3 separate regions of the Homo sapiens genome follow, and regions 1 and 2 are each linked to region 3. Evidence: fine-mapped expression QTL. A gene starts in region 3. Each other region holds a variant in brackets. All regions are shown on one strand. Distances are from middle to middle. Region 1 overlaps GARS1 (glycyl-tRNA synthetase 1). Region 2 overlaps GARS1-DT (GARS1 divergent transcript). Region 3 holds the start of GGCT (gamma-glutamylcyclotransferase).

What was found. PIP is the estimated chance that this variant, and not a neighbour inherited with it, causes the effect.
Region 1: its variant is the best candidate, but not a certain one, in a credible set for the expression of GGCT in lung (GTEx, PIP 0.79).
Region 2: its variant is the best candidate, but not a certain one, in a credible set for the expression of GGCT in unexposed skin (GTEx, PIP 0.54).

Annotation. Positions count from the first base shown.
Region 1 is chr7:30,607,761-30,616,302 of GRCh38, reverse strand. It overlaps GARS1 (glycyl-tRNA synthetase 1), which reads right to left. Exons shown (of 17, transcript NM_002047.4): 7 at 6,573-6,718; 8 at 4,058-4,207; 9 at 245-407. Among named protein-coding and RNA genes, the nearest start is that of GARS1, 17 kb to the right of the region's middle. The variant C/T (reference allele first, on the strand shown) is at 3,981.
Region 2 is chr7:30,545,209-30,553,750 of GRCh38, reverse strand. GARS1-DT (GARS1 divergent transcript) reads left to right here. Exons shown (of 7, transcript NR_038889.1): 6 at 1,572-1,651; 7 at 2,970-5,394. Among named protein-coding and RNA genes, the nearest start is that of GARS1-DT, 28 kb to the left of the region's middle. RefSeq lists an enhancer at 4,561-5,062. The variant C/GAC (reference allele first, on the strand shown) is at 4,850.
Region 3 is chr7:30,499,585-30,508,126 of GRCh38, reverse strand. GGCT (gamma-glutamylcyclotransferase) reads left to right here and starts at 3,298. Exons shown (of 4, transcript NM_024051.4): 1 at 3,298-3,558; 2 at 7,446-7,591. The coding sequence starts at 3,418. RefSeq lists enhancers at 2,823-2,912, 2,332-3,210, 3,353-3,562, 3,211-4,090 and a silencer at 3,713-3,892.

The sequences.
Region 1 (8,542 bases), 110 kb before region 3:
TTCCAAGTGCTCTGCTAAACATTTTTTTTCATGCTAGCCCCAAGGCCCACAAATTGAGATGTTCAGGTGATTTTTCTCTTACTATAATAATACTGTATAACAAATTCTGTACAAAACCAAGTACTGTAAAAAAGCAAATGACTGCCAAAATAAAATATCTTGTCACCCAGAACACATAGAATTTGCTAATTGCTGCAAACCCTGAACAGGCACAATCTAAGTTAAGTTACCTCCAGAATCCTACCTGTTCAACAGCATCTCCCAGGCGCATTTTCCGAGCGGACTGTCCGCTGACCTGGGCTTTTGCTGAATACAAATAAAGGTGAAGGTCTGCCACATTCTGGAACTTGGGGTGGTCTTTCTCACTGGGATCTACAAAGTGCTCAATTTCTGCCATTGTGAATTCTCTGAAAGCAAAAACGTAAGCGATAAACCTGCATATTTAACTACAAAAAACAAACAAACAAAAAACAAGGCCTCTATTTTCAACTGCATTCTAGTGATAAAGGCTCCATACTATAGTGGTCTTTTTCACTAAACAGAAAGTTGGTTTCCTAAGGGAATGGCCAAAAAAATTTTGAATTAAATTTGTCTGGGTAGTTGTTATTTTTATTTTTTTGATGTATTATATTTGTACAAATTTATGGGGTACATGTGAAGGTTATTTTTAAACACATTAATGAAAATTTTATTACTCACTATTTAAAATAAACATGATCTAACTTCTCTGAAGTATTAATTCCTTCCCTCCAGCTACATCCAAAAAGATTATTACTTTTAACTGAAAATAACTTGTTAAAGGCAGATTAATATAGTTTTTTAAATTAGGAAAACATACGCAAAAATCACATGAAAAATAAGAAATAAGATATTGAATAGTGACATGCAGATAAAATGGTTTTCCTTAAAGCATTAGCAAGTCTTTATAAGTATACACTAAATGAAGTTTCTTCATCCCATTTCAAAGAATGGGAAATTAAAAGCGAAATGAAATGGTTCTTTAGCTTTCATAGCAGTTTGATTTCTTCTTTTTTACTGCTACAAAAAAGTAAATGACTGATAATGGCATCATACAGTTGGTTTCTTTGGAGCAAGAGCTTCTTAAATAAAGTGTTATTCAAGGCAAAGGATATAAGGCATGAATTGAACAAGCTAACATCAAGCTAATTACCTAACGATGAAGTGCACATAGTAATGGTTTCCCAAAGAGATTTCTCTGAATGCAATTTAGTAGCTATTTGCGGGAGAAGTGTTTCAAGTTAATTTTATGAGTCAAAATCAATCTCTCTTCTTTCAAGAAAAATCACATTTTCTGGTGTGCTTCCATGATTATCTCAGATGTTTTACGAGTAATGTAAAATTGCTTAAATGGATCCTAAAAATACATGAAATACACTGCAAAAGAGGTTTAATTTTTTTTTTTTTTTTTTTGAGACGGAGTCTCGCTCGCCCAGGCTGGAGTGCAGTGGCGCGATCTCGGCTCACTGCAAGCTCCGCCTCCCGGGTTCACGCCATTCTCCTGCCTCAGCCTCCCGAGTAGCTGGGACTACAGGCGCCCGCCACCACGCCCGGCTAATTTTTTGTATTTTTAGTAGAGGCAGGGTTTCACTGTGTTAGCCAGGATGGCCTCAATCTCCTGAACCTCATGATCCGCCCGCCTCTGCCTCCCAAAGTGCTGGGATTACAGGCGTGAGCCACTGCGCCCGGCCAAGAGGTTTAATTTTTAAATTTTATTTTTTAATAGTGTCTCTTATTTGGTCCTGCTGCACCTATGTTTTAGTTGTCTTTCAACAACTAGGAAACATCTTCTGTGCCCATATAAATGTGAGAGAAACAAACATGGTGTTTGTCCTCACATAGCTTATAATTGGGCTGACAGCAACTGAACATCTACAATGTGGGACAGGATAAATTACGGGCCCTGCCTAGAATCTCCAAAATGCTGCTGCCAAAGTCTTTCCATCTGTTCTGTCACAAATCTCAGCACTGTGTCTATAGTTAATGATTCACTGTATACCTGAAATCCGCTCAAAGAGTAGATGTTAAGTAGATCTCACCACTAAAAAAAAAAAAAGTAACTATGTGAGGTGATAATTATGTTAATTAGCTTGACTGTGGTAATCATTTCACAATGTATAAGCATATCAAAGCACCACACTGTGTGACTTGAAATCATACAAATCATACAAAATTTACTCATCAATAATCTCAGCTCATAGATAGGAGGCAGGAATCATCAGAATTCTGAGTAACTGTATCTCAGTTCAGCAACTGTACCTGAAACTGTAGAGAACTAAAATACACACAGGCTAGGAAGACAGATAAGTCAATCAAAATAAAATAAAATTTTAGAAAAATCTTCATATGAACAATCTAATACCTCTAAACTAACAAAAGGACAAAAGGAAATACAGCTATGCAAAGATTAATCACCAGAGAACTCTGCCATCAAGAAGAATCAGAACACTAAATAAACCAATCCTAGTCCTACCATGGAACAAAAGCCAGGAGGATGCTGACTCATGAAAAAACTAGTGGACTTCTGGTCAGGAACTTGCAAGGGACATAACAAAACTAGCCAGAATTCAGACATGACACTTTGAAGTGAAAATGACCAAAGAATCCACTGTTGAGAAGCCCCAGAGCCTTTCTACCAGTTAACCCCTGGGATCACTCCCAAGTTCCAAGCTGGTTTCCCTACTCACCACTTTTTTACTGCACAGGCCCCAGACACTGCCTTACTTCTCAGTCCTTCTCAATAATCTTCCCATAGCTACTCTGTGTAAACCCTCTTCGTAACACTGGCTTCAGACAAGGTCAGCCTTACGCAGCTTCCTCAGTTTGGGAAGGCATACTTGCTAGATATTGAAACGGTGAAAAACAAAAAAACAAAAACACTCAGACACTGGGAAATAAAACAAAGACTCAAATCTGACAAATTTGTCATTGCCATCATACCTGGCTAAAGTTTCTGATGACCTCCTCTTTTTACATGAAAGCTCAGAGGGGTCATTCCCCCAACTTTCTCTAAGTTGGGCACATTCTTTCCTCTGTAAGTCCCTCCTTCCTAAACCGTAAACCTGTAGGGCCTAGAGATACAGTTTGCGCAGAACATAGGCATCTTCTCCCAGATGGCATCATGGGAACTAACAAGATGAGGCAGGTGCTGTGGATGCTTTGATCCAGAGTCAGTGACTGGGCTATGTTATGACCCAAGTCTGTAATTACAGTGAGTAAGAAGAGAAGACAGGAAATGGGTGGGCGCTGGGGCTGGGAAAACACTTTGGGGCCTTAGAAAGTTATGTTTAGCTACACCTCGTATTTTATATGGAATGTATTACTCTAAGAGATGATACCAGGAATAACGTATAGAAATCACAAAAAACTTAAGTCATAAACAGCTGAGTCATAATAAATTTCTAAAGAAATATAGAACTCACCAGCCCCAATATGCCTTCCCACACATCCCTGGATAGATCAGACAAAAGTAGGCTATTTGAATAGAGGCCAAGTGAGTGATGAGGGTAAGCTTGCTTGCTGGCCTTTCTGTCATATAGGCCCCCCAAATACCTGGACGGAGGTTGTTTCCAGAACTCCAGTTGGTTACTGATACATCCTCACCCCAACTTCAGCAATGTTGTCTGCCCTAGATATCTAGAACAATCCTCCTGCCACAACTTTCACCCTACCCCCACCCGACCCCACCCTTTTATACACATCACCATTGCCAGTATTGCCTTGGTTTAGACAATCAAGATATTACCATCCTCAAAATATACGATGAACAAGGAAAAAGGTAATTTTGGAGCAGGTGAGACTCTTAAGACAGTCTCCACCCTCCTTCCTTTCCCTTCAAGTTCACTTTTGTCACTCAAAACTGCCTGTCATCCTGGAGATTACATTTAGAGATTCCAAATGTAAAACATGATTTTTGGAGAAAACAAAAATAAATTCATAATCAGGATTATGAAGCAGAATTG[C/T]TTCAAAACAGCAAGCTTTCATTTTCAATGCAATGCCAAGGTCATTCACTAATTTGTAAGAGTAACCTGAGCAGTACCTGACTCTGATCAGTCCAGATCGAGGGGAGATCTCATTTCTAAAAGAATTTCCAATCTGGGCAGCAGCAAAAGGCAACTTTCCTTGGTTGAACTCCAAAAGTCGTTTGAAATTCAAGAAAATCCCCTGTGCAGTTTCTGGTCTCAAGTACCTATAAATTTAAGTAAGTCAGTCTGTTACAAAGAAAGAAATTATGTTTTCCAACAATCCTGAAATTCTAGATACAAATCCTAAAAGTCCTAAATATACCATTTTCACAACAAAGTTGAACAGGCCCTAAAATGAAGTTTTAGAAATATTTTCCTCGGTAGCAAACATTTTCATAGCACGTATTAGAAAATGTATTAAGTAATTAGTGTGGCAGTACTACTTTGGCAATGCCATTTCATTTAATTACACCAGTGAGTCAAAACCCCACTTCTCAAAAAGCAGAAATAAAAATAAATTTAAAAACACCACCTCAGGCCGCGCGCAGTCGCTCACACCTGTAATCCCAGCACTTTGGGAGGCTGAAGTGGGCGGATCACCTGAGGTTGGGAGTTCGAGATCAGCCTGACCAACATGGAGAAACCCTGTCTCTACTAAAAACACAAAATTAGCCAGGCGTGGTGGCACATGCCTGTAATCCCAGCTACTCAGGAGGCTGAGGCAAGAGAATCGCTTGAACCTGGGAGGCAGAGGTTGCAGTGAGCCGAGATCACGCCATTGCACTCCAGCCTGGGCAACAAGAGCGAAACTCCATCTCAAAACAAACAAACAAAAAACACCACCTCTCCCATAGTGCCCCTTAAACCCCTGATGTCTTCTAAGTCATCATGTACATGGAGGCAGATGACAATCTTAGGTCCTTTGGAAAATAATACCCATGCCTATGTTTAGCCCTGTTAACCCACATATTAAAACTTAACTGAGGGGCTAAAAAGAAATCAGTATAGGCTCACATTTAACATCAGCACTCACTTATCACTATCACCTCACCAAGCCAGGTAATTTTCAATGTTTTTCAAATCATTTTATTATCTGCAGTATTTTATATTTTCAACCAGAGGCTTCCGCATTTCTCTGTATTTTAAAGATATAGTCAAGCAAATACACTACTATAACCACTGCCCTCTCAATTTCCTAGAAGATATTCTGTGCAAAACATCCACTAAGGAAACGCTCCCAATGGCCTACTTCAGAATAAGTATTTTACTAAAATAACTTTAAAACCAAGGGCTAAAAACCCTAAAATTGTACCCTCTTCTTACTTAACAGACCAACTCTTTTGATTTTTATGGCCCTTTCCAGATTTCATCCAAATGTAAGTAAAGTTTATACATATATTTACAGTTAGTATGTATAAAATCATGTATTACCTATTTTATACTTCCCATTTTCTAAATAATGGCACAAATTTCTCACATTTAATAGTGACAGAATATTATCCCAAACTAATCCACTTTACCATAATTTGTTTAACCACTCTCAAATTACTGAATAGGTTATTTCTACTTTCAATTTATATACTTCTTCTAAGTATAATTTCCTTTCCTTCTGAATTATTTCCTTAGATCAATTCCCAGAAATGGAATGTCTGGGTCACAGGTTATGTCTCATTTTATGACTCTGTACATATGGCCAAAATGAAAGGCTTGCCACTGGCCTCTTTCCATGAAATATTCCAAATCAACCTGATGTCTCATTAGAATAATTAACTGCAACACATTTTGTCACAATTAATTTTTCTTATTCTTCAGTCCCTACTCTGGGAAACACGATCTATCTAGCTCATGTAGGAAAAACTTACTCTCTTACCCTATCATAGAAAAATATCTAAAGCTATGAAATGGAACACTGGCTAAGTCTGTTAAACAGTGGACAAGGAATCAGAAGATAAAGATTCCAATTCTGAATCATACTGTAAACTAACCAGATATTCTTTATCCATGAAAACCACATCTTTCAAATCAACAGGCTATACCTATGCTGTCCAATATGGTAGGACACCAGGCAGATGTCTATTTAAATTTCAATTAAGATGAAATAAATTTTAAAATTCAGTGCCTCAGAAGAACTGGACCCATTATGAGTGCTCAAGAGCCAAATGTGGCTGGTAGCTAATCATACTGGACAACACACATTACAGAACATTTCCATCACTGCAGAAAGTTCCGTTGGACAGTAGCATGCTAAACTAAATGGTTTCTAAAATATCCTTCAGCAATAAGTTCAACGGCTTTTAAAACCATTCTTCAACTGTCCCTTCTACCCTATGCAGCTATAACTAGAAGATATAGTGATCAGAGACTTTATTTTATGCCAAAAAAATACATATATGCCAAAAAAGAAATTATATTCAGAAAGAATTTTTTAAAAGATTTATTTCTGCCATTATTTCTCCATAATACATTCATCTGTACTTCTGTATATCACTTTTTAAAAATTTTTCCTTCATAACATTGATATTTACCTTTTAATATAAGCAATTTTAAAAACTTCATTACATAAACAGGTAAACAATAAGTGATACATACCCAGGCATGTTTCCTCCAGGCCCAATGAAAGTCTTGAACATTAAGTTAAAAGACACTGGAGGGGATAGATCATTTCCAGTAATGGGAGATTTTACATTATAGTTCACAAAAAGATCCGCAAGTTCTTGCTGTCCATAGTTATCAAGCTAAAAGACATATAAAGAAATTAGTGTAAAAGACAGAGAAAACAAGGCATAAGATATAAAGTATTATATATAACCCTAGCCATCCACTGCTACAATCACACAAAATTCAGGAACATCACAATTAACCTAACCTTCAGGACACCCACATTAAAACCATAACCAATTTATTCACTTTCCATTTATCAAGAGAGAAAAAAATATCCTTCTGGGACCTAAAACTCATATAGTCACTGTTTCAAAGTGAAAGATAAAGCAAAATACCTCTTATTCAATTATAATAGTTATTGGTTGGCAAGAATCTGAAATTACCTAAATAAGTTTTCAAAGCTGAATTTTACTACTCTGAACATATTTAAGGTGCATTTCTGCATTTCTCTGTATTTTAAAGATCCAGTCAAGCAAATATACTATTAATAGCCACCACCCTCTCCTCAATGGAGTAATTAAATGTGCATTGAACTTTCCTTTCCCATTAGATATTAAGCGCCTAGAAGACAGAAGCTGTATCTTATTCACCTCAGCATTTTCCAGTGTATTGCACATTCTATACATTGATCATCAGTGCCAAATCCTGTAAAATGATGTATGCCCTCCAATTTAAGAATTTCAAGTGACTATGACAAACCATCTAATAGTAAGCAGTATTTAAAACTTAAAAGTTTCCTAACAGAAACAAAATAATTCAGTAAATCAATTAATGGCCATAATAACTGAAGCTTCGAGTTCAGAAAGACCTTGGCGTATCTCCCAACTCTACACCACTTATGGGTTGTGTGACTAAAGATTAAGTTCTTACCTAACCTCTCTAAGAACAGGGGAGAACAGCTTCTACCTTGCTATGCAGGAATATGATGAAGATTAAACAAAACATGTAAAGTATTTAGCACAGGCAGGACCTGGTACATAATAACTACTCAATAAAGAGCAATTATATTTGCTACCCTCATAAATCCAATGGTATTTCCACTCCATAAAAAGGCAACCCACTCACACTAACAACATGTTCCAGATTTGAATGTGCAATTTAAAATATTAAGCCTTCTAGACTCTATTTCTACAGAATTTCTAGGAGGAATCCACAAAATAACATTATACAATTACCCAAGAGGCTGGATCAATGAGGAAACTGTTCCAGTGAACTTCAAGACACGGGTACCATAAATATAAGCTGGTCCTACTAGAGTAGAAAGTTAAAGAGCCTGAGGAACATCTATTTCCCAGGTAATTCAAGAATATATAGTGTTTTCCAATAAAAGGCATAATTTAAAAAGAAATCAGGAGGAAAAAGATTCTGCCAATACAGATAGAAAGCAAAACCCCTGGGAAAGGGAATCTGGCAATATCTAACATTACTATATTTGTATTTATCCTTTGTCCCATTTCTAGGCATCTATCCCAAAGACACAATAGCAAAAACATGAAAAGATATAAGCACAAGATTATTCAATGCAGCATTATCTGTAATGTTAAAGATGGGAAATAACCTAAATGTCCAGCAGTGGACAACTGGTTATGTAAAATATATCCACACAATGCCCAATTATGTAGCTATAAAATGGAAGGAGGCAATCTCTATATACTATGAGGGACCAATCTCTGAAATATTTTGTTATGTGAAGAAAACCACAATGGAGAAAAGTGTGTATGGAATGCAACCATTTATCTAGAAAGGAGGGCATACAAATATCTATATGTCTTTGTTTATATTCTATTTTTTTAAAAAAGGAAGTTGTTTTAAGTTAAAAACTGCTCAGGAAGCAGGGAAGCAGAAGGACGGAAGGTAAAGGGAAGAGAAAGATAGTAGACTAAATATACCTTGTTTTT
Region 2 (8,542 bases), 46 kb before region 3:
AGCCTGTTATGGTTTCATGGATGCTGGCAGATGACATGAGACTGGATCAGAGACAAAGGACTACACTACTCATGGCAGAACAAGTTGCACGAGGTTTGTGTTAGTTAGCATTGGTTTTCCTTGTCCCCAAGTCCCACAGGGGTGATGTGGAGGGGCCCAGGTGGTTACTGTACACGCAGTGTGTTTGTACTGCAGCTAAGGAACACTGAGCTTGGGAACATACAATTTAATAGTAAGTGGTGAGCAAGTCTGCCCTTTGTCTGGGGCAGGGGGATATTGCTTTGTCAAGGCTGTCTACTGCAAACACAACCCTGAGAAATATCCCAAGCAAGGAACAGTCAGGACCTTGCATTCTTGTCATCCCCAGCAAGAGCATGCAGAGACAATCAGAGCCTGTGGCAAATTGCCTGTCACAAAAATCCACCACAAGGCCTGACAGATCCTTGGCCAAATTCACATTTTCCCATGAGTATGCTACCTCATCAGCTGCTCTGATTAGTCTGACCAACAGAGGGACCAAATCTGTTTAATTTGATTCCTATCACATTTAAAATTAAGGCTGCTATTGACAGGACTTCAAGCAATACAGTGCAGCAAGTCTGCCATATTGATCTCACCCATGTCCCCAGGGTCCCGGGCTCAACCAACTGTCTAAAAGTTCTGGGGGCAAGGGAGACCAGTCATTCCTATTTCAGATAGCTAGGATAAAATCTAATATCAGTCTAGTATTCATTATGACCCACTCATGGGAGTTTAGATTCACTGATATCATTGCCAGTGACTACAGGAGGCAATGTAGGGAGCAAAGACCCTCATCCCTGATGGAAGGACATTCATGGCCTCTCCCTTTCAAAGAGACAATCCAAAGGGGAGCAGGTCACTCTAGTTTGGAATTTGTTGTTAAATTTGATTTGAATCATCATTGCATTGGTTTGGTTAGGTAAGATGGTTAAATTTTACGTGTCAACTTGGCTGGGTCATGAGACTAAGATATTTGGTCAAACATTACTCTGGATGTTTCTGTGAGGGTGTTTTTGGATGAGATTAACATTTAAATCATTGGACTTTGAGTAAAGCAGATGACTCTACCTAATGTGGATGGTCCTCAACCAATCAATTGGAGGCCTAAATAGAACAAAAGACTGACCTCTTCCAGGCAAGAAGGAATTCTGCCAGCACATGAACTTTGCACTTGAACTGAAACAGTGGCTCTCCTGGGTCTCCAGCCTGCCAGCCCCCACCCTGCAGATTTTGGACTTGCCAGCCTCCATAATCATGGCAGCCCATTCCTTAAAATAAATCTCACTCTCTCTCTTCCTCTAGAATATACATACATATATATATATATATACACACACACACGCACACACATATAATATTATATATATTTTATATGCACACACAAAATAACAGATAGATAGATATCGTATTAGTTCTGTTTTTTTGGAGAACCCTGACTAGTCCTAGTTGCCTTTCTTTTCTTTTTCCACTTTTCTTCTGAGCTCATGTTCCACCTTCTGATATCTTAACATCATTTCCCTGAGCTCACTTTATCCTTTTCCTTCTTAAAGGCGACCATTTCATTAAGTTTTTAAGTGCCTGGTAATTGCTTGGTTATGACCGGTGTCTGCTCCATGGCAGCCTCTTCCTGGTGAGTATTCCACATCTGCCATTGGTTTTTCCTATCCCTTTCCTACATTTGCAGAGATCCTGCATGTCTTCCTTTTTGATGACTCATCTTTGAACAAGTGGAATTTTTTTTTTTTTTTTTTTTTGAGACGGAGTCTCACTCTGTCGCCAGGCAGGAGTGCAGTGGCGCAATCTTGGTGCACTGCAACCTCCGCCTCCCGGGTTCCAGTGATTCTCCTGCCTCAGCCTCCCAAGTAGCTGGGACTACAGGTGCCCGCCACCATGCCCAGCTAATTTTTTGTATTTTTAGTAGAGACGGGGTTTCACCATGTTGGCCAGGATGGTCTTGATCTCTTGACCTCGTGATCCACCTGCCTCAGCCTCCCAAAGTGCTGGGATTACAGGCGTGAGCCACCACACCCGGCCAAACAAGTGGAATTTTTCCTGGACCAGCTCTTTGCTGGTCATGTGGGAGGAGTTGGGGCTGTGTTCCAAGTCAGCTGGAATTTTTCTTATAACCCAGGATTTTACATGTGAGCTTGATCAGCCTTTACTTCTCAGCTTAAGCAGGTCTGGGCATGTTTGGCAACCTGGCCTGCATAATGAAGATTTCCATAATTTGGTGTTCATCTATTTATTCAGTTTTTGCCCGAATGATGAAGGAGGAAGTTTACATCTTGCTCCCTGGGGACAGGCAGAGACAGTGTGTGCACTTCCATCCTACAGGGACCAGATCTGAACAGTCTGGAGAGAGGAGCTGTGGTGGCAGCAGACAGATCTCTGCTTCAGGGGCCAGGTGTCTAGGTGAGACGCCACAGCGCGGCAGAGAGAACAGAGGCTTCTCTGCATGCCTGCCAGGGAATTGGCACCATGTCAACAGAAATCTTAGGTTACAGGAACAGGAACCAGCCCTGACTGACGTGTGCAAGCCCGGAGCTTTCCTTTCTCCTTGCACTTCCCACATGTTCCCCACATAACCAGCAACCACAGAGCCACCCCCTGCCACCCAACAACTCCCTCCTGAGCTAGAAACTTGTAAGACTCAGCTAGGAGTCTGAATGGTTGGATATCTAAAGCAAAGAATAATCTAGTTTGTAACATGGGACCAAAGGAAGAACTGAATATCCACAATCTGTGTAAAAAGAGGCCACTTTGGAGATTTCTATGCCTCTCAGGGGCTCTATCTCAGGATGGCTCAGCTGTAATTATCTTTGGATTCCCATACAGATCCAACTTCCCTGGAAAGAGAAAGTCTCATGTTTGTTAATAATATGAGGAAAGAATTAAAATATATCAGCTGCTATGGGCTAATGTCATTTATTTTGACTTTTCTTTTGTAGAAGAAATGCTGAGGCAGTGTCACGCTGGTGTCTGTCCTCCTTACAGAATGCCTGAACAGTTCCATTGACTCAAAGTGAAGATCAAAAGAACCAAATGACAGCAATAGCCAAGTGTAATCATCAGTAACCCTGTGTTCTATCCACAGGTAAAAAACAATCATCCTCTTCATTATGGGTTTCAATTTTAAATGTAATACATTTTTAGAAATGCCTATTTCCTTTTATAATCTCTTTATATAATCTAGGTTATTCTGGCTCTTAGGTCTTCATTTAGCTACTGAAAAGATTTGATCTCAAATCAATGATCTAACCACCCATGACCATCTCCCACCTCTCTCCCCGTACACCCCCCAGCATGAATTCTGGGAACTCAGGTAAAATGCTTTCTGGAAACCTGCCTGTATTAGTCTGTTGTCAAGCTGCTAATAAACACATACCCGAAACTGGGTAGTTTATAAAGGAAAGAGGTTTCCTTTATAGTTCCACATGGCTTGGGAGGCCTCACAATCATGGTGGAAGGCGAATGAGAAGCAAAGTCACATCTTGCATGGCAGCAGGGAAGAGAGAGTTTGTGTAGGGGAACACCCCTTTAAAAAACCATCAGATCTTGTGACACTCATTCACTGTCACGAGAACAGCACGGGAAAGACCCGCCCCCATGATTCAATTACCTCCCATGACACAAGGGAAGTATAGGAGCTACAATTCACAATGAGATCTGGGTGGGGACACAGACAAACCATGTCACCGCCTAAAACCAACTCAATAGTCTAAGGAATTTGACTGGGGAGAATCTGGAGAGGATTTAATTAATTTGGCAAAAGGATTAGCAATTGAATCTAAGTGAGAAAAGAGAATTCTTGGAGGAAAAAAAGATGTTTAGTTACACTGAGAAATTAAAACCTGAAGTAATTGCCTTTGAGATTTTTTTCAGGAAATGAGTATTGATTGCCTACTGTGTGTCAAATTATGTGTTTCATGTCAAAGACTCCAAAGTAGATAAGATATAGGCCCAGCCTTGGGGAGCTCATTGAGTCACAGAGAAAGTTTGAATGTTTCAGAGGAATCATCAAGAACAGGGGATCAGCAATCTATTATATTTTAATTGCGTCTTTTCATGATTATAAAAGCAATGCATGCGTGCTGAAGAGAATTTGGAAAAACAAAGAAGAAATTAAAAATCGTCTCTGATCCTGCCACCAGAAATAACCACTGTTAGCAATTGTATCACTTCTGTAGGTCTACATGGTTATCATAATAAGCTCTAGTATTGATTACATGCATCTCATGTACCAGAGATTATGCTAGACTCTCATTTAATCTGTACATTAGCCCTATGAAGTAGGGACCATCATTCTCCTCATTTTACAGATGAGGAAACAGAGGCTTGGAGAGGTTACTCTGCCTAAAGTCTCATAGCTAGCGAGTGGCAGAGATTGGACTCACCCAAGCTTTGTCTTATTCTCAAGCTCTCAACCAACCCGGTGGTGAGAAGAGCCAGCAGCAAAGCCTGTCATCTTTGTCTTCTTTTTTTTTCTAACCTCAAATCAGGGAGAAAATGCCCTTTGTCATTAGAAGGGCAAGGCAATTCTGAAGACAGCCCAGTTGGCTTGTCTCCGATTTGGCTTTCAGGGGCCTGTCTGATACCTATGGAGAGACGAGGGCTGAACAAGCTGTACTCTCAAAACAAAACAAAGCAAAACAAAACTTTAGTCTCTTTAGGGACTCTCTGATAGTAATGCAGAGGGAGAAAGGCTTTCTTTGTCTCACTGGGAGGAAGGTTCCCTACGGAAATTGAAGGCAGTGCCTGTTGACATAGCGCTGCCACCTGGTGGAAATAATGGTGTAGGACATCATGTCCAGCACCACTAGCGCTGAGA[C/GAC]ACTCCCTGGGAAGAGAAATGTTTGGAGAGAAATTTGCAAGAAGTTGGAAGTCTCGCAGTAGCAGGTAGGAACAAGAATTATAACTGCTACTGTGACCCCCTAAGGCTCCTCACATCCTCTTAAGGCTTGGAGAAACTCACACTATGTATATTTTCCTGTATTTTTGAAAAATGTTTTCCTTTATGCTTTGTTGTAATGAAATTACCTCTGATGGTCACATACCTTAAATATTTAGTATATATATGAATACTAAATGTCCATTTTCAGGAGTTAGTTTACCTGCATCTAAAATCAGGAATAGGTCACAGAGTAACTGAGCAAAAAGTGCTGTTAGGTTTGTGCATTTCACCCTTTGCCTGGGATGAGAGGACCTCAATCATCTTGGTACTAATGACAGGAAAAGTGCCCTCCTATCCATGTGTATCGGCTACGTGACTCAAGTCTCCTTATTTCCTTTTCTAGCATAACAAGGGGTTGTTACTGTTGTTTTACATCTGTGTTAATGAGATAAATAAGTTTAAAATAAAAAGATGTGTACCAGGCAGATGGAAAGGTGAACCATGAAGTTTTTGCCATCTGGATCTTCTGTCAAAGACAGATGAAAAATTCTGCCCAGGGTGTATGCTGAAGAACACAAATACTTAATCTGGAGTTCAAGTATGGGCTTCAAGGAGTCTATACACCCCTGAAATTTTGGGACAGATGGAATGTGTCTGAAGTATATTCATTTTTCTGGGAGGAAGCTCCAGAGTTTTCATCAGCTTCTGAAAATAGTGCATGCCCAAAGAGAAGGTTCAAAATCATTGCCTGGGGCCTTTCAGAGGGTCCTTCTAATCATGGTGTTCCCTAATGTTAATCAACACCACAAGCACTATTATTATTAAAAGTAATTGGGTCAGGTGTGGTGGCTCATGCCTATAATCCCAGTACTTTGGAAAGCTGAGGGAGGTGGATTGGTTGAGTCCAGGAATTCCAGACCAGCCTGGCCAACATTAGCTGGGTGTGAAGGCACACATCTATAGTCCCAGCTACTCAGGAGGCTGAGGTGGGAGTATCTTCTGAGCCCAGGAGGTGGAGGCTGCAGTGAGTTGAGATCATGCCTCTGGCACTCCAGCCTGGGCAACAGAGCAGGACCCTGTTTCAATAATGATAATAGTAATCATCATCATCATCATCATGATGTCGCAAGCTGATTTGAAATAACTTATTTTTATATAAGCACTTGGATTTACATAGGCTTGACTGAGGAATTACACTAGTGATTAAGGGTTCAACCTGGACACTGGTAAGGTAGACCAAGCCACATGAACCCCTGCCATTGGCAGGCCAGCAGCCAGTCCATCCTTCCTCCTTTGGACCCGTGGACTGTACTCAAAATCAGTAGAGGCTCTGTCAGAAGGTCCTGGGAAACAAGACCTGTCCATGGTTTCTTTACCTGAAAGTAAAAATGTTTGATGATATAATTTTTAAGTTCCTTTGAATCATTAAAGCTCACTGATTTAGGAGAATGGCTTTTACAATTTTTCAGCTTTAAACTCCCTCCTAAGTTTCTGAAGATCCTCTTGGGCCACTTCATGGATCTGATTTAAATCTAAAGTCCTAGGGGTTTCAAGGAGCACAGTTTGGAATCTACCATCCCGGGACATTCATTATATTAGTCTGTTTTCATGCTGCTGATAAAGACATACCCAAGACTGGGCAATTTACAAAAGAAAGAGATTTAATTGGACTTACAGTCCCACGTGTTGTTCCCTTTTTGCTGACATTACCCTGTCTGAAGTCCTCTACCCAGGGAAGCCACAAGGCACTGTTCTGGGTGGAGGTGGGTGTGGTGTCCACTGCGCCATACCCACCAGGACCTGAGGTGGAAGCTGGCCAGACACTGGTGCTCTGCTGGCATTTGGGCTGCAGATTTGGGGCAGGTAATGGGCATGGAGAGAACAGAGCCAAAAGCAGCACAGGAAGATGTGGCCATTCTGGTCTGAGAGAGGCATGGGAAATGACGGTTGGTGGCAGAAGCGTTTTCTAAACTTAGGCTCGTGAACAGCTTTCAAGTCCAGCTCTTGTCCAGATGTTGTCTTATACCACATGCTCATGGCAACCAGACCACCTCTGATTTTTTTGCAACCAGGTGCCTAACACAGCACATCAGTCAGGATCTGGCAGGAAGCAGGTGACATTCACACAAGGTAACTGACGAAAGCTGCTTTTGTTTTTTGCTTTTGGAGGAAGATGTTGAGAACACCTCCATTTATTAAATTAGCTATAGTAAGTGTAGTTTACATATTAAGGAGAGATTAATGATAGGATTTATACAGATGTGACAGGTTTAGGGAATGACCCCACTCAGCTGTCCCCCTTTCTATGAGACCATGCCTCTGCCTTCTCCCAACTCCATTCCAGCCCAGATGGCCTTCCTTTGTCCTTCTGTGGGGTGGAGATGGGAATGGTTCTCAGTTCCAGCTAGAATCAATTCAACTGGGGAAGCTTCAAAATACGTCAGTGCCTGGGCCCCGCCCCCAGCATTTCTAATTTAATGGGGCTCAGGTGGGGCCTGGGCAGTGGTGCTGTGTAAAAGCTCTCAGTTGATTCCAACACGCCCAGACCAATTCATTGACACTCTCTGGGGTAGAGGGCCTGGGCACTGGTACTTTTTCAAATTTCTCCAGTGCAGCCAGAACCAAGAAGCTCTGTTTTCTTTCCAAATCTATTGTCTGTTGGGGTGATCAGACCCAACACCAGGTCATGGGGGTGACAAAGTCTGGTGGAGTCAAAGGATTGAGAAATAGGTTTGAAAGAGAAAGGTGGGACACCAGGGGGCCATCGCCATTGTGGAGGCTGTGAAGGCCCTGAGCTCTGGGAGCCCATGCTATTTATTGGCAGTCCAACAAAGAAACATGTGGTGAGAATGTGGAGGTCAAAAGGACATGTTGCATTAAGCACATGATTTACAGCTGTGATGGTTTAGCGTTTATATGGAACATGTTTTGCTACTTGAGATAATGGGAGTAGGAGCCTAGGAAGGCTAGAAGCAAGGAGCCAGCAAGGCTAGACACATTCCAGAGGACATTATGTCAGATATGCAAGCCCTGCCTCAGTTTCTCCCAACACTCAGCTTTTTCCTAACATGCCCCCCTTCTCTTTTTTGTAAAAGAGAAAGTATTATTACTAGCTATCATTAGCAAGGTGATTGCAGGCTGTGCAGCCCTTAATTGCCGGTTGGTGATCCAGCTTCATTTTTCTTAGCCCTTATTCAAACCGGAGTCACTCTGGTTTGAGTGCTTCCCACATATCTCCGCTTTCCCTTTTACAGGACCCTTAATCCTAGGGGTTGCAGAAGGATGAAGGTCCATCTTCTGTAACTTCTTCATGCTGAATAGGGGTGATGATACTCCTGCCTAACTATTAGGGTTTCTGTATTCAGGGTAGAGAGGAGCTCAGCCAGAAAGCATTGGTCTGTTAAGCATCAAGACTCCGGTCGGTCCTCGTTCCATCTTCTCATTCAGATTCAGCTGGCTCATGGCTCGTACTGGGGAACCCAGTCCATGCTTAGGATCCATGGGTCCCTCCAGTCTCCCATTCCATGGTCGTACACGTCTTGAGGGCATCCACATGGTTCGTTCATCTCCTGCAAAAACACAAGCATACCCTCACCCCCACATTAGTAAATCTACTGAAACAGAAGCAAAAAC
Region 3 (8,542 bases):
TTATTCTTCTATCCTTGCAGTTCCTGAGACAGGAAGATAGATTTAAAGGCTTGATGATGTTGAGGTTAAAATTTTTTGGAAAGAATACTTCATAGATGATGCTGGAGCTTCATATTGCATCAAATTGGGAGATATTTAATGTCAGGCTGGGCCACTTTTATGGTGATAAGATTGTTCTGGGTTAAGGTAGGAGGGGCAAGATTTCCCTGTGTTGTAAAAATGTAACCAGCAGTAGGCCAGGCGCGGTGGCTCACGCCTGTAATCCCAGTGACAGGTGAAGCCAGCTGGGCTTCTGGGTCGGGTGGGCACTTGGAGAACTTTTCTGTCTAGCTAAAGGATTGTAAACGCACCAATCAGCACTCTGTGCCTAGCTAAAGGTTTGTAAACGCACCAATCAGCACTCTGTGTATAGCTAAAGGTTTTTAAGTGCACCAATCGGGGCTCTGTGTCTAGCTAACCAGGTAGGAGGCTTAGAGAACTTTTCTGTCTAGTTAAAGGATTGTAAATGCACCAATCAGTGCTCTGTGTCTAGCTAAAGGTTTGTAAACACACCAATCAGGGCTCTGTCAAAACAGACCAATCAGCTCTCTGTGAAATGGACCAATCAGCAGGATGTGGGTGGGGCCAAATAAGGGAATAAAAGCAGGCCACCAGAGCCAGCATGGGCAACCCACTTGGGTCCCCCTCCAGGCTGTGGAAGCTTTGTTCTTTTACTCTTTGCACTAAATCTTGCTGCTGCTCACTCTTTGGGTCCGCACCGCCTTTATGAGCTGTAACACTCACCACGAAGGTCTGCAGCTTCACTCCTGAAGCCAGCGAGACCATGAACCCACAGGAAGGAACAACTCCAGACGGGAGGAACGAACAATTCTGGACGGGAGGAACGAACAACTCCGGATGGGAGGAATGAACAACTCTGGACGTGCCACCTTTATGAACTGTAACACTCACCATGAAGGTCTGCAGCTTCACTCTTGAAGTCAGCAAGACCACAAACCCACCAGAAGGAATGAACAACTCCAGATGCACCGCCTTTAAGAGCCGTAACACTCAACCGCGAGGGTCTGCAGCTTCACTCCTGAAGCCAGCGAGACCATGAACCCACAGGAAGGAACAACTCCAGACAGGAGGAACGAACAATTCTGGACGGGAGGAACAAACAACTCCGGATGGGAGGAATGAACAACTCTGGACGAGCCACCTTTATGAACTGTAACACTCACCATGAAGGTCTGCAGCTTCATTCCTGAAGTCAGCAAGACCACAAACCCACCAGAAGGAATGAACAACTCCAGATGCACCGCCTTTAAGAGCCGTAACACTCACCGCGAGGGTCTGCAGCTTCACTCCTGAAGTCAGTGAGACCACAAACCCACCAGAAGGAAGAAACTCCAGACACATCTGAACATCTGAAGGAACGAACTCCGGACACACCATCATTAAGAACTGTAACACTCACCGCGAGGGTCAGCGGCTTCATTCTTTAAGTCAGTGAAACCAAGAACCCACAATTCCGGACACACCAGCACTTTGGGAGGCCGAGGCGGGCAGATCACGAGGTCAGGAGATCAAGACCATCCTGGCCAACATGGTGAAACCCCGTCTCTACTAAAAATACAAAAAATTAGCCAGGCATGGTGGCGGGTGCCTGTAGTCCCAGCTACTCAGGAAGCTGAGGCAGGAGAATGGTGTGAACCCGGGAGGCGGAGCTTGCAGTGAGCCGACATCACACCACTGCACTTCAGCCTGGGCGACGGAGTGAGACTCTGTCTCAAAAAAATAAAAATAAAATAAATAAATTGTAACCAGCAGTAATCCTCAGGGAGTAATTTGGCATCAAGTGAATATCCTGTTCCCTATCACCTTTTCACCAAATGATATCACTGATGATCCTGGCATGAATCAATTATAAAATTCCATTATTCATTTAGGATGACTTAGTTGGCATACTTTTGTAAAGAGAACTGTTTCCTCATCAACTGATGCTCGTCATCAGCTGTATTTCAGTTACCCCGAAATACAGCTGCTACTAGAAAGGCGGAATACCTGTTTGTTTTCTTAAATTATCACTTTGCAGAGTAAAGTTGGTGTAATAGTCACCACCAATAGTGTGGCAAATGAAGTTATAGTTTTTTTTTTAATTTGGATTACTCTTTGGGGGGAATGGCTTTTTTATGTTTAAAGTTTCCAATCATTTTTCAGTTTGCAGTCATTGTTATTTTTGATTCTCAAATTGTTCTAATTTTGGCCAGTGGGCAACTTCAGGCTGGTTCCCATGTCCTTTTAGAAGGACCTCGTTCGTCTTGAGAGGCGTCCTGAGCTTCTGACACAAGATGTTCCAAGTTGTCCTCATTCACTCCTAGCTCCTGACCTGGCATCAGTCATTTCTCGAAGGATCACTTGGTACCTTTTAGTGGGGGGTGGTATTTAGAGATTAATAGCTGGGTGTCAAGGATAGACAATGTTCCTATGCCCTTATGTTCATTCAAAAGTTAACAATATAGGTTTTAAAAAATACACCCAGGATGTGTGTGTGTGTGGGAGGGGGTAACCAAAACACAATATAGGGGTTTCTACTGTGACCCTAACTTATATTATGATCCCGATTTTTAAAAAGAGGAAACGGAGACCAGAGGTGCCCAAAGTTACTTGGCTAGTAAATGGCAGCGTCGGGATTTAAGCCCAGGCATGTAACTTCCATGTAACAGGGAAGGGAGTCCCAAGCATTCAGAGGGGCCGCTCCAGCAGGCGACGGGTCCGTGGAAAGGGGTCAGATTGATGACCAGTGCTGGGGGTGCCGGAACCAGCAGAAAGGGTGAACGGACCCGTCCTGCCCGACTCCTCTAGGCCAGGAAGGCAGGACCCGGCGAGCTGCCGGATGAGGGAGCCGTTGATGGAGTCGCCTGGGCCGCTGTTTCGCCTCAGATCTGACCAGAACTTCCTAAGGCACAGAAAGTACCAAAGAACCACACACAAGCACCCCAGAGCGAAGAAACCAGTCACGCGCCACGACCTTCAGCCAGTGTCCATGGGACCCGACCCGCCTGTGAGGAGTGCCTGTCCACCCCTCAATCAGAGGAAGCCTTGAGCAAGGAGGGGCGGGACATCAGTAGGTCGTGTCCAATGAGGAGCCAGCGCCGGATTGCTTCAGGACAGACTATTTCTGAGTCTCGGCGGAAGGCGGAGGGAAGGCCGTGGGGATGGCCAATCAAAGGGGGCGACTCAGGTCGGTGGGGACCGGCAGCCAATCAGGAGAGCGCTCGCTCCTGACTCGACCGGCCCACGCTTCCCGCCAGTCCCCTAACCCTGAGGCTGCCGCGCGGCGGTCACTGCGCCGGGGTAGTGGGCCCCAGTGTTGCGCTCTCTGGCCGTTCCTTACACTCTGCTTCAGGCTCCAGTGCAGGGGCGTAGTGGGATATGGCCAACTCGGGCTGCAAGGACGTCACGGGTCCAGATGAGGAGAGTTTTCTGTACTTTGCCTACGGCAGCAACCTGCTGACAGAGAGGATCCACCTCCGAAACCCCTCGGCGGCGTTCTTCTGTGTGGCCCGCCTGCAGGTGAGTGCCCCCTCCCGCGCTACCCACGCCGGGGCCGGGATGCCCAGAAGGCGCTTCCTCGGGGGCACACGTGGCCGATCGGGCCAGGAATGCAGTTCTTCTTGATGAGGGTACTAGGACGCGGCTTCCGCCTCCTGGGCGGGTCCACCTCCTCCGCTGCGCCCACTGCCCGGCCCTGCCCGGGCCACGGTGCCCTCTCGGGCTGCCTGGAGCTTTCCCCCTCCTGGCCTTTGCACCGGCTGCTCGGTCTGCACCGATTTGGCCTCTCGTCCACTAACTTAACAGATTGCATACAGTTGGTACTTCTGGAGAGTCTTCTCTGACCCGTGTCTGGGAATTGGTTGCCTTCTGTTCTGTACATAACCTTTGTTACAGCACTTCTCACCTGGCATTGTGAAAATCCGTTTACCTGCCTTTCGCTCCTCATCTAAGAGGTCCTGAAAGCTGGGACCATGTCTTATTTGTAATAATGCTGTGTTCAGTTAGGTCAAGGGGCTGCATGAACTATAACCAGTGTTGGTAAATCATTGCTCTTCAGCCCAGTCCATTCATTCATTTAGTACATATTCTTCCGGCACTTAACACTAAGGGTATAAACATGATTGAGTAAAGTGGCTGTTTCGAGGAACTCTCAGTCTGTAGGACAGAGGTGCAATAGATTATGTTCAAAACCTTTTTGACAGCGTCGAATGAGACAAACATGATCTCTGCTAACATCGTGAGTTCTTAGTTGCAAGCAACAGAAACTGGCTGATTTAAGCAAAAAAAAAAAAAAAAAAAAAAAAAAGAATGTGTTGAAAGGCTATTGGAGAGCTCACAGAATGACCAGGAAGGCAGGAGTACAAAGCTGACAAAACGGACAAGCATAAAGGGAGGCACAGCAACTGTAATACAGTGGGCATCACACAACAGAACCAGCCCACGGAGCCTCTTCCACGCCACTGCTGAACTTGGTAAACGTGGATGCTGTATTGTCCACCACCCCCTGCCCTGGACACTGCCTGCCTCTGTACATCCCTGCAGTTCCTGAAACCCAAATGTGTCAGCCTCTCTGGAGTCCCTGCTGTCTTGGGCACTAGCTTCTAATTGAAAGCCCCAGAATGTCCCGATTGGCTAAGTTTTGGCCACGTACCCATGCCGTGATTTTAAGCAAAACTGAGAGAACCAGCTTCTGGCCTTTGAAGCCTCAAAAATGGGAGTCAGGCTCTGATACTCCCTATTCCCAAACTCGTAAGGTAGGGAATTTCCCAACTGTAGGAAGGGAGTCCAAATGCTTACAGTCAGGGCAAGGGGAAGAGATATTAAACAAGGGATTATTCAGTTACAGGTATATGGTCCATCTTAAAAAGGAGGCATGCAAAGTGCAATGGGGCGTATGACCAGGGTACCTGACCTAACCAGGATGCTCAGGAAAGCCCTGCCTGAAAATGTGACTTTTAAGTTGAGACCTGAATGATTGTAGAGGTGGGGAGCACACAAAACAGGGAACAGCATCTTCTGCAAAGGACCTGAAGAAAGAGGAAGCTGGATCTTTCAGTCAGTGTGGCTGGAGTTTAGTAAGGGGAATGTGGCATGAAGACTGGAGATATGTGGAAGGGCCACATCTTCCAGGACCACAGAAGCCAAATAAGACACACTGCAGAACTAAAGCACATGAAAGATAGATTTCTATCTCCAAAAGCCCATTCTGGTCACATGGAAAATAGATTTGAAGGAGGGAAGAGTGAATGTGGAGAGTTCAAGAAGTTTTTGCAGCAATTTATGCCAAAGATAATGAATGGCATCTTGAACTAGGGTGGTGGCAGGGCAGGGTGGATGGATTTGAGAACTAATTTGGAGATAACATTGTTAAAGCATAGTGATTGAGTGTGAAGAGAATACCAAAGATGACTCAGGTTTTTGGCACCAGGTAGATGCAGGTGATGTTTGCAGAGAAAAGAGGAAAATCCGGCTTGGGAGGAGAAAATTTTAAGTTCAGTTTGAACATTTTGAATTTGAAATGCTTGCTAAACAGTCAAGTGAACAGAATAATATTAGCAAACATTTATTAAGTACTTACTGTGTGCTAGGCCCTGTTCTAAGCACTTCTGAAGCTCAGAAGAGAGATCTGGTCTGGGTTTAAAGATGATCAGAATATTTGAAGCCATTGGAGGGGATGAGAATGTCTTGAGCAAATTGCCAAATGAATAGAGAAAATGGCCTAGACCATGGGTGTCCAACCTTTTGGCTTCCTTGGGCCACACTGGAAGAAGAAAAATTGTCTTGGGCCACACATAAAATACACTAAAACTAATGATAGCTGATGAGCTAAAACAAAAACAAAAACAAAAAAAAGGCCCATGCATAATTTTTGTGATGTCCGCCACCACAGGTAAGCAAAAAAGTTCTTGCATCCAAAGGGTTGGACACCCATGGCCTAGACTGAGCCTTGAGCAACTCCAACATTTAAAAATCAGGTAATGGAGGAGGAGTTGGCAAAGGGGATTGAGATCAAGGAACAGCCTGAAAATCAGGAAAGAGGCAGATCAGGAGAAGGTGGTTACCTATGTTCCGCTGAGAAGTGGAACAAGATGAGGAATGAAAATAGTTTATTGGATTTAGCAATACACAACCAGTTAGTGTGAATTGTAACTTTTATCACATCTCCTGGTGTCCTGCCAGGGACATGTGGTCCTAGAAGAACATCTCTTATGCTGAATAAAGGTACTGGTCACTCCAACCACCCCAATTCCTGAGATGTCTGACAAGTTTTTCTAGAAAATATAAGTGACAGGGATAAAATATAAACCTGAAAAGGATCCTAGAATTATCGTTTAGTTCAACTTTTTAAATTTATCTATAAGGAAACTAAGCTCTGGAAAGATGGAAAGAAATCTTCCTAGACCAAATAAGCCACATAAGGATTCTGTATTTTATTTGTTTTGTTTTTGTTTATTTTTTAGTTTGTTTTTTCATGTAAGGATTTTTAATCTTCCCCAGGACTCTATCCCCTGATTGCCCACCTCTGTGAGGAAAGAAGTTAAACTAGAAACCTAATTTCATTACTTATTAGTTCCAAGACCTTAGGAAGATTGCTTAATCTTTCTAACCCACAGTGTTTATTGCTGTAAAATGGGTATAAGAAAGTTGTTAGCAAAATAAAACGGAATGGTCCATAATTATATATTAGCCAATAGCACTGTGTACAAAATGATCCACCCGCCACGGCCTCCCAGAATGTTGGGATTACAGACGTAAGCCCCTGCACCTGGCCCCCAAAACACACTCTTTTATCCATGTCTTTGGGCATGCTCGTCCCCTGCTTAAATGGCCTTCCCATTTGCAGTTAGTGTTAGGTGCTCTTATGATTATTGTAGATAAATTAGTATAATTCGTGAGTATTAGTGTTCATAAGTACACAAATCATTCATCCTCAAATGCCAGGTCCCTCAGGGCAAATTTGGTGATATATGTTGGTAGGATACTCTACAGACATAAAAGGAGAGAGAATATTATAACCCACATGTAGCCATCACCCAGCTTGTCTCTAAGTAAAAATTTATGTGTATGTAAGAAGACTGGGAAGTAATTTGCAAAAATGAAAACAATTGTGTTCAGGCATTGGGGTTATGGGATTTTTTTTCCTTAAACTTTTTGTTTTTGTTAAGATGTCTATACATATTCAGTGTATGTTTCATTTTTAAAGAAAAATATTTAAAAAACGTAATCCTTGGGATCTGGGTCCTGTCTGTTTAACTTTATATTTTCCACAGCTTCTTATGCATAGAAGGAACTCAGTTTATTGACTGTTTTAATTGCATGGAGTTCAAGGTAAATCCTTTTTATTTTGATGAGGGAAATTTGGATTCAAGTGGATATTGATCATATCACTTTGATTTCCTTTGTAGGATTTTAAGCTTGACTTTGGCAATTCCCAAGGCAAAACAAGTCAAACTTGGCATGGAGGGATAGCCACCATTTTTCAGAGTCCTGGCGATGAAGTGTGGGGAGTAGTATGGAAAATGAACAAAAGCAATTTAAATTCTCTGGATGAGTAGGTGGCTTCTAATTATAAGTTAAACAGTAATTAATTCAGAAAGCAGATTGTATGTGAGGATGTGTACCTGTGTGTTAGTTTTTCAAAACCACATACTACAGACATATTCATTATACTTTTAGAGTCAACATAAAAGGCATGATAATGTGAGTTTGCTAAAAGGTCTAGAAAGGCTATATTTTCTGATAAAGATTTGGGGGGATGTTTGTAATCTCTTATGTAAAAGATGGAAGCCCTTATTTTTCATTCTATTGTCTTTCATAATTTTTCTTTATAGTTTCATACTGTGAAAAGGCATGAAGATTTCTGTAATTGTTACATATTTTTGTTGATTTTGAAAGTACTTGAATTCAGTTTTTAAAGAACAATTATTTAAGATGGCAGGTGAATCAGTAAATAAGTAATACTTTGTAAAAGCATCTGAGGACATGTTAGAAATGCTTTGATACTTTTTATGACTAGAGCTCTCAGAGTTGTGTGGCAGAGCATTTCATACAAAGAAAAGTTGCAGAAAAGAGTAGGCCTTGAGAAGAGAGGGTTATCTGACATGCTCGATACTTTACCTCACTTGTGAAGGAGAAAGAGCCATCCTCTCTACCTTTGTTCTAGGTGGATATTCTCTTGCTGTCAGAACACCATCCATTTTTGTAGCCCAAAGAACAATGTTTCCATAGTATAAAGTTGAAAAAAAAAACAAACTATATTGAAGCCTCTTTAAAGACAAGATAAATACAGAGAGTTATGTTAGGAGTATAACAAGTAATATTATGTCTCAGGCCTTCTAATTGAAATGCTAAGCTAAGCTTACTTTTTTTTTTTTGTAACGGAGTCTCGCTCTTGTTGCCCAGGCTAGAGTGCAATGGCGTGATCTCGGCTCACCCCAACCTCTGCCTCCCGGGTTCCAGTGATTCTCCCGCCTCAGCCTCCCGAGTAGCTGGGATTACAGGC